Homo sapiens: one gene and its partner. The protein of the gene in region 2 purifies or fractionates together with the protein of the main gene of each other region. This does not show direct contact. Each region holds a gene or a part of one and is shown on either strand. Other genes may lie near its edges. The genes, in order: KIF26A and PLCXD2.

Region 1 (4,578 bases), on a different chromosome or scaffold from region 2:
GGCTGGGCCCCGACCCTCTACGCCTCCCTCTACAACGGAGACAGGCAGGGAGACCCTGGCAGGCTGGGCCCCGACCCTCTACGCCTCCCTCTACAACGGAGACAGGCAGGAAGCCCGGAGGCGAGGGCCTCTAATAGCCAGGCCGGGTCCCAGCAAGTCTCTCCACTTCTCTGGGCTTCTGAAGATCCAAGCATGAGACAGATGGATGATTGTGAAGTTCCCTGTAAACAGCTATCCTCAAGGAAGCTCATCTCTCCCCTAAAAAATACGAAACGGGCCCCTGGGGAAATCCTAGAACACCAACCCTAAATACCCCTTGCCACGTTGGCCTTACAGAGCAGAGGCCAGGGCCCACTGGACAGTGCACCAGACTCCGGGGAGCACACTGGGGTCTCCCTGGCCACCCCAGAGATTTCCCTCCCAACCCAAACACAGAAGCAGCCATGTCCACACATCTGGGCCCAGCGGGCCAGGCCAGGGCTGCAGGCTGCAATTTTGCTGGGACTCTGGGGACAGCCCAGGCCCGCACAGGGGACAGGACAATGACACCCGTAAGGCCCCAGGATGGCAGGTGCAGCCCCCCATGCCCTGTGGAGAGACAGTGGAGGATGGGGTCTTCTCTCCCGGGGGCACAGCACCCTGCAGGTGGGACAGCACTTCACAACAGGCCCCAGGTGACAGAGGAGACCACAAAGCAGAAGAAGGGGGCCCAGAGCAGAACAAAGCCCTGGCTGAGACCAGCCCGGGACCCCGGTGTGCTGAGTGCCAGCGCCAGCTAGGGAAGGGGGAGCCCCCAGCTGGCACTCAAGAGGAGTTTCCAGTGTCAAAGGCCAAGCTCAGGGGAGGCTGGAGATGGGTGGTCTGGGGCTCCCCTGAAGACCTGTCTGCCAGAAGAGACCAAGACACCCCCCTAGATGAGGAACCTAGAATCCACCAGGGACTAGTATCACCTGCAGCCCTCTCCACTAGGACCCCTGGCCTGCCCGTGACCAGGAGCCCCCTCCCCTCCACGAGTCCATGCCAGGACCATGGCCCCAGGGCCAGGCAGCATCAGCAGTCCAAGCCCACTCCAAGAATGAGGAGACCAGCTCAATCTTAATGCCCCTCCTGTCTCTGGCGTGTTTCCCCTAATGGGGCAGCAAGATGGGCCTTTAGCTCTGGCTGGCCCTCTCCAGGGGGCCCTCAAGGGTCTCCTGCTACCTTTTAAACTAGATACAGGCCACTGGGGCACAGAGTATGGCCAAGGCTGCAGCCTGTCCAGAGCAGAGGACAGGGCGGGTCCAGCCCCACCCCAGGACAGGCCCACAGGCGCCTGGCCTGAGCCAGAGAGAGGCTACAGCAATCCTATCCCTCGCCGAGACTCCAGAGAGCCCGGAGACGGTGCCCAGGACAGAAACCAGACTGGTACCCTGCCCCACCCTGCCCTGCCCCAGACAGGGCAGTCAGGGTCTCAGCTCACTCCAACCCCCACAGCCCTTAGAGAACTATATTTAGATTCAATGGGGATTATGCGGACTTCCCAGGAACTCTTTCATAAAGGCTGAAGGCCCGGCAGCGGGCTTCCTCTGGAGACCCCCACCCGCCCCCAGCCTTTGCAAACTTCCAGCATGCATTGTTCCTGGAACAATGGTCCCTGCTCCCTCCAAAGCCGGCAGGCCCACTGGCTGGAAATCCAGGAGAACCCCTCCCCTGCAAGCACCTGCCCCTGGGGCTGGAGCCTGGGGAACCCAGAGGGCCCCGACTCAATTCCCCATGGGCGGCCACTGCCTCAGTCTATCCCAGGAGGTATGGGACAACAGTTCTTATCCTTGAGGCTGGGAGAGGAGTAGGCAGGGACCCCCCAGCTGCTGTGGCCCACCCTTTCACCTGCCAGGCCCCCCGGCCCCAGGTATGTAATTTCCAGACACCTGGCTGGGGGCCCAGGTGCCCCAAGGGCCACAATGCACCAAATAACCTCTCCCTGCTGGTAGGGCTGGAGCTGTCCCGCCCTGGGTGGAGTCCCTGCCATCCGCTCTCTCCCCTCCTCCTCCCACACAAACCTGCGTTCCAGCTGTGGGACATCTGGGCTGGGGGAGGAACGCCAGCCCAGGCCCCTCCCATCCGAGGCAGCAGGGCCCCTCGGGCTGAGCTCCCTAGCTCACACATGGTGTTACAGACCGGGAAACTGAGGCCCGCAGAAGGGAAGTCCTGGCTGATAACTCTTTGTGGAAACAGCAGCAGGGAAGGAGTGGAACCCTGCTTCCCTCCAAGCCCCAAGTTCTACCCAAGTTCGGCGTGGCCCTGCTCGGAGGGGTCGGCCTAAGGAAGTGTCACTTACCCGGAGGGTGGTCCCGGGCCCGCTGACCAGCTTCCACGCCTGTCGCTTGAGCTCCACCAGCTTCGTGTGGCAGTGGCGGCACCAGCCGCCTCCGCCGGCCGAGTGGCCCTGCTCTGGGCCGGCCCCGGCGCCTTCGGGAGCAGGGCGGCTGCCGCATGGGTCCTGGTCGGGCCCGGCGGGTAGCCTCTTTCGGGGGGACACCTCCAGCAGCGGCGGCGGCTCGCGGGCCGGGCCGCCCTCGGCCACCTGCAGGGTGTGGGGGCGGAAGCGGACAGTGAGCCTGGGACGTCCGTCGGATCCAGACCCCTGCGCGCCCTGCCCCAGCGTGACGCTCTTGCCAAAGTTAGGAGCCCTGGGCACGACCCTGGCGCTCACCCACTCCCTCCATCCCCGGAGGTCCCGCCTGCGGGTCCGCTACCCTCAGCAGGAGGCCCGGCCCCCAGGGATCCAGCGCACACCGCGAGTATCTTCGCCGTCCCGGGCCCCCGCCGCCCGCCTCCCTCTCCAGGCCGGGCCGCGCGTACCGCGGGCTGCGCAGCGCACAGAGGGACGCCGCGGCCGACCATGGCCGGGGCGCGGGAAGAGCCCGGCAGGCGCTCCCGGCCACGCTGGCTCTCCGGGGGCGCCGCGGCTACGTGATCCGGCCCCGAGGCGCCCCCATGGCCCGGCCCAGCCGCTCGGAAGTTCGCAGAGCCTGCGAGTGTCGCGAGGAGCGCGGTGGCTCCGGTGGGCGCGCTCGGGAGGCGAGGGCGGGGCCGGGGAAGGGCGGGGCTCGGGCTCCCGGGGCGGGCGGCGAGGGGCGGGAGCCCAGAGAGTGCCCCGCCCTTGCCCAGTGCTGGGCGGCGCGTGGGGGGGGTAGGGTCCCCGCTTCCCCACGCGGCCCCGCGCACTCCAAGGACCCCAACCTGTTAGGTGAGTCCCTGCCCCGGGGAGGGGCGCTGGGGGCGGCGGCGAGGATCTAGTTGCGCGCGCGCATGCGCCTCCCGCCCCTCTCCCGGGACACCAGGGCTGCGCGTCTCCCAGGAGGCGCCGACGCCCCTCCCTCTACAGGCGGGAAAACTGAGGCTGCGGAGGGGACGCTCTTGCCCAAGGCCCACGGCGAGGTGGGCCGAGGAAGGGGCGGGACCCCGGCCCCGAGACTCCCAGGCGCCTTTCCAGCAAGCCCAGCGTACTCTGCGTGTCGCGGGCCACTTTAGGTCTAACTGTCGCGCGTGGGTTAGTGTCGCCGCGGTGTGCGCCTCGAGCCGGGCAGCGACCGCGCCGGCGTATCTGTGCCTCGGCGCGTCTGCGAACGGCACGTGTCTTTACAGCCGCGCGTGTGCCCGCAAGTGGGTGTGCGCGCCGTGCCGCCCGGGAAGCGGGAGGTCCTGCGGGCGTGCGCCGGACCTGTTGTCAGCAGGCCTGGCAGATGGGAACTCAGCTCCGGAATTAATTGCTTGTTTGTCTCCGGCTGGGAGGCCGCCCCCCCGCCCTTCCCTGGCGACCAGTTGCTCTGTGCCTAGCCGGGCCCCAAATGTCGCCGGCATCCGCGGCCGCAGGCAGCTCCGGGCCAGGCTCCGGGTCAGCCCCAAAGCCCGGGTCAAGCCAGGCGGGCGCGGCGGGCGGGCTCCCCGTGACGCGAGTGCCCCCTGCCGGCCGCTGCGCACACGGCTCCGAGACTGGGGAGACAGCGCCGCGCGTCCCAGGCCTGAGGCGCACTCGGAAACTCCGAAGGTCGTGACCCGGCGGAGACCAGGACACGCGGCTGCCGGCACATACGGTGAGGCCTTCGCAGAGACTCAGTACGTCAAAGTGACCCTTTCCGTTTTGCCCACCCCCTTTTACTTGGATAAGCCTCCCCGCCCACGCACGCACTCCCCAGAAAGTGGGGTGGGTGATCCCCTCCCGGCTTTCCGGGTCGTTGATGACCTTAGGGGTTCGAAAACGCAAGGGGGTATGGAATAAAGTGGCAGGGGCTCTCCACTCTTTCTGAGATCCGTAAGCCTGCAGTCGCTTTCCACCCAGCCTGGGGGGCCGGAAGCGCTTCCCCTACCCGTCTCTTCGCAGCCTGGAGAATGAAAACGGGCGTCAGCCCACATCTGGATCTGGGTACTGAGGACAACACCCAAACCCCACCCCGCACTGCCGGCAGACAGCACCGCCTCCCGCCGCTCCACTGCTCCGGGACACACACTCTCTATATCCCGTCCCCCCACCCACACACGCAACACAGAAGCACGCAGCGGTCGGGAGCACCGGTCCTGCGCCCCTGGCCAGCCACA
Region 2 (3,807 bases):
GGGCCTTGGGGAGCAGTTAGTCAGGCACCTTAGTCACGAGCTAAATGCACACCGGAAATGAGGCTGACATCCAGAGCTCTTGTTCTTGGGTGCCCGGGAGGATTACCCTCTGTGGCCAACTATCCGGGGATGGCAGTCCAGGCCTCGTGAGCATGTGCAGGGCATTCCTCCAGGAAAAGATTACTAGTGCCTGGGACAGGGAAAAATATATTCCTTTAGAAACCTTCACAGCAGAGCTCTGAATTGGGACGATCAAAATAGCAGTTTCCTATCCCACAGCTGCCTCCCAGAAACTAATTAATGCTGTGGATGTAGCTTGCTAATTATTTTCAACATCACCACCATCCTGAGCGGTCCCTGTGGAGGCCAGTTGCCTCTGCAAAGTCTCCCCTGACTCAAGTGGCACACTCCCCACTCTCCTGGGAAGGGCAGTTCCAGGCAGAGCCAGCACACACGATTGAAAGTCTATTTACCCACAAATTAGTTCAGTGTTTTTATTTCAACTCCAAAAGCTGTCAGTTTTGTAATTACAGGAGACATAACTTCTAGACAGCGCTTGCTGCTCAGCCTAAGAGTTCTCAGCCTGAGGTCCAAAGCTTCCCCAGAGGGATATGAGGGTAGAATTTAAGAAGTCTTTAAATTTGGATGGGAAAAAAAATACATATTCATTTTTACTAAAATTGAACTGAAAATTAGTATACCCATAGATTATGAGGGCAGGCGGTGACCCACAACAATCTTAGCCCTGCCTGATTTTTATCTCCCTAGATGCGTCCATCTCACATTTTGGTTATCGCAGATATCTGAGATACCACTTATGCTTATCCCTAACTCACAGTTATGGGACTTATTAGACTTACAACAAAATATTTTTATTGAATGCATTTATCATGCAGCACATACATTAATTTATTACAAACTTATTTAATATATTGATTGCTATATTTCCATATCATAGATTTTCTTTGTAATCCTGTATATTGTATGCATTCATTTAACATGTAATTCTGAGAAGGGGGTCCATGATTTTAATATACTTCCAAAGGTATTTATGCCAACAAAATTAAGAATTTTTGAGTCAGACATATGGCAAGTGCTCTGTAAATCTTTGCTGATTTCCTAAAAATATATATTAATATAAACAGTTCTTGACTTTCCACATATGATTATATTTTCTTGCCTTTTTCCTAGCAGTCCGTATAAAACGGAGGAGTTAACATTCAGCATTTTTATGGATTGCTCTCCTTTTTGTGTTTTGAATATTTCAGGTTCTTATTTTCTACCACTGTCCCTTCTACAAGCAGTACCCCTTCCTGTGGCCAGGAAAGAAGATTCCAGCGCCCTGGGCAAACACCACAAGTGTGCGCAAACTAATCCTCTTCTTGGAGACCACTCTGAGTGAGCGGGCCTCACGGGGCTCCTTCCATGTCTCCCAAGCGATCCTCACCCCCAGAGTGAAGACCATTGCCCGGGGCTTGGTTGGGGGCCTCAAGAACACGCTGGTTCATAGGTAAGAATTTGCTTCCACCCCACAAGGAAAGCTTTTTAAAAAATATTTATCTTGATTCTATTCTGAGTAAATCGCAGTAAAGCCATGTAGTCTGAGGAGTTAGAAAAACAACAAAACAAGCAAAAAACTTTGTATTCGAGAAAACCATGCAGTTGAGGTGGATTGTATTAACAAAGGCTCTCTAAACACTTTGTTCATAAGTACACATCATACCATAAATACTGTACTCTCTAAATTTTGCTATAAGGCAAAGCACATTGAGCCAACACCATGTCTGTTCACTCCTGGTACCTGGCCACATGGGGTCCTGCCTGTGCCTCGCAGCTGACCCAGGCACTCATTTAAGAAGCATTCAATATAGGCTGCTGTCCTAGGTGCTAAGGATTCAGAGCTGGCCCTTCAAGAATTTGTTCTCCTTTCCATGGTGACCATGAGTCACTGAAGAAGCAGCTTAGGATGCCACCCACCATGCCCATGCTGTAGCTTCAAATACTTCCTCAGGGCAGAATTGAGCCTGGTTGTACAATTAGATAGCAGAAGCTTCAGTAATTTTGTATCAGATGGTGTTCCTTATCCCGGACACCAATGAATGATAGATGTTCTCAAGAAAAAGGATGGTTTATTTGTATGCGTGTTTGTGTGTGTGCGCGCACATATATGTGAGTGTGTGTATGTATGTGTCTATGTACCTGTACATGTGTATGTGTATATGTATATGTATAAAAGGAATGTTATAAATACATTTGGATAACAGGGAATCCCTTGCAATCCAAGCTAAGGAAGCTAATACGTTTGGGTAGCAAAAGATATTTACAAGAATCAGTTTGGTCCCTGAGTTTCAGGTTGACGAGCAGAGTTCAGATAATGAAAGATTCATCCAAAAACATGTTTCTATTTATTTGGTCCTGAGTTTAGGTAACATGAGTTCAGATAACAGGAGTTCACCTAGCAGGAGTTTAGACAGCAGGACTAGATTTTTCTTTCTTGGTGAGAGCTCCTGATTATGTCAACCATGGACAAAACCAGAAAGTGTTTTCTGTGTGGCTCTACTAAGTCTTGACTGAATTCATTATGCTGAACTTGGAAAAGTGAATTTTATAAACCAGCACTATATCTCTTTGAAAGATCCCGAATTAGAAGCTTTATTGTTTTAATAATATGTTTGTGTATCCACACTGTTTTCCTCATGCCTCTGGTATATTTGTAGATCAACATTATTTATATATTCATTCAACAAACATTGAGCACCTAGGAAGAGCTAGGTACAAAGATTCAAGGTGAATATTATACTGTCTGCTGTCAAGGAACTCACAGTCTAGCAGCAGAAACTGGCATGAAAATTTCTATAAAGCAATGTGAAATACCACTGTGAAGAAGTCTGTGCAGACAGCCATACTAATAATGGAGAGGGAGTATTTAAAAAACTAAGGATAAGTTATATCTGTATACCATATTCTGAATATCAAATGGCTTTTTGCAGATGATTTCATTTGATTCTTAAATCAAGTCAGCCTCTAGGATGGCACATTGTCTACAGCATATTATCATCCCCTCTTTAGATGGGATTCAGGGAGCTTAAGTGACCCCAATCCATACAGCTAGTAAAAGTCAAGAATACCTCTCAGACTCTGGCCTTCTGATCGTTAGACCACTGCCCTTTTCAGCGTTGGACACTGACTTGGATACTGCATATTTTTGTGCTTATTCTTTTCTGTTCCACAGGCCTGCAGTTGTCTTATTAGTACCTGAATCTGGTAATATCTCACAGGTTATAACTAGTAACCCACAATGTCACAAAGCTTTTCATATCTGTACATTCCTAAAACTTTAATCTGGCTGCAAGTGAAACATTGGCTCTTTCCTTTATGATGAGAGATAATGATGTTGGCATGCGCCCAAAGCCAAGGGATCCTACTATGCCAGAGCCCTTGCACTACTGCTAGCAGCAAGCCAATGTCCCCAAGCTTGGAAAGATACTTTCTTTGGCATCTCGCCCCCCTGCCGGCCATAAGAATATTGCAAGTATGCATGCATTCCTAGTCCTGCACATCAACTGAAGGAGGAAAATATAGCTCTGGTTGAGTTTGTTCCAAAAGGCCAGTGCAGAGTGTGGCTGTCATTTCCTCTGGGCTGTTGAACAAACATAGGACCTTCCCCTGTGTGCCAACACCCAGAGGGTCTGTCCTAACAACTGGTCGCTGGCACTGGTGGTCAGCTCAAACCAAGAAAAAAAAGACAGGGTATATTTTCTTACAAATGTAGAGGTGGTTTCTCGGCAGGGATTTAACCCCCTAACT

Evidence for each region.
Region 1: the proteins of PLCXD2 (region 2) and KIF26A purify together in Homo sapiens (affinity purification with mass spectrometry, with the first as the bait; one large-scale study listed by BioGRID). This does not show direct contact.

Annotation. Positions count from the first base shown.
Region 1 is NC_000014.9:104,137,028-104,141,605, reverse strand, and holds the start of KIF26A (kinesin-like protein KIF26A), read right to left. Parts: upstream 3,020-4,578; 5' UTR 2,884-3,019; coding exon 2,842-2,883; intron 2,564-2,841; coding exon 2,318-2,563; intron 1-2,317.
Region 2 is NC_000003.12:111,712,619-111,716,425, forward strand, and holds part of PLCXD2 (PI-PLC X domain-containing protein 2), read left to right. Parts: intron 1-1,268; coding exon 1,269-1,510; intron 1,511-3,807.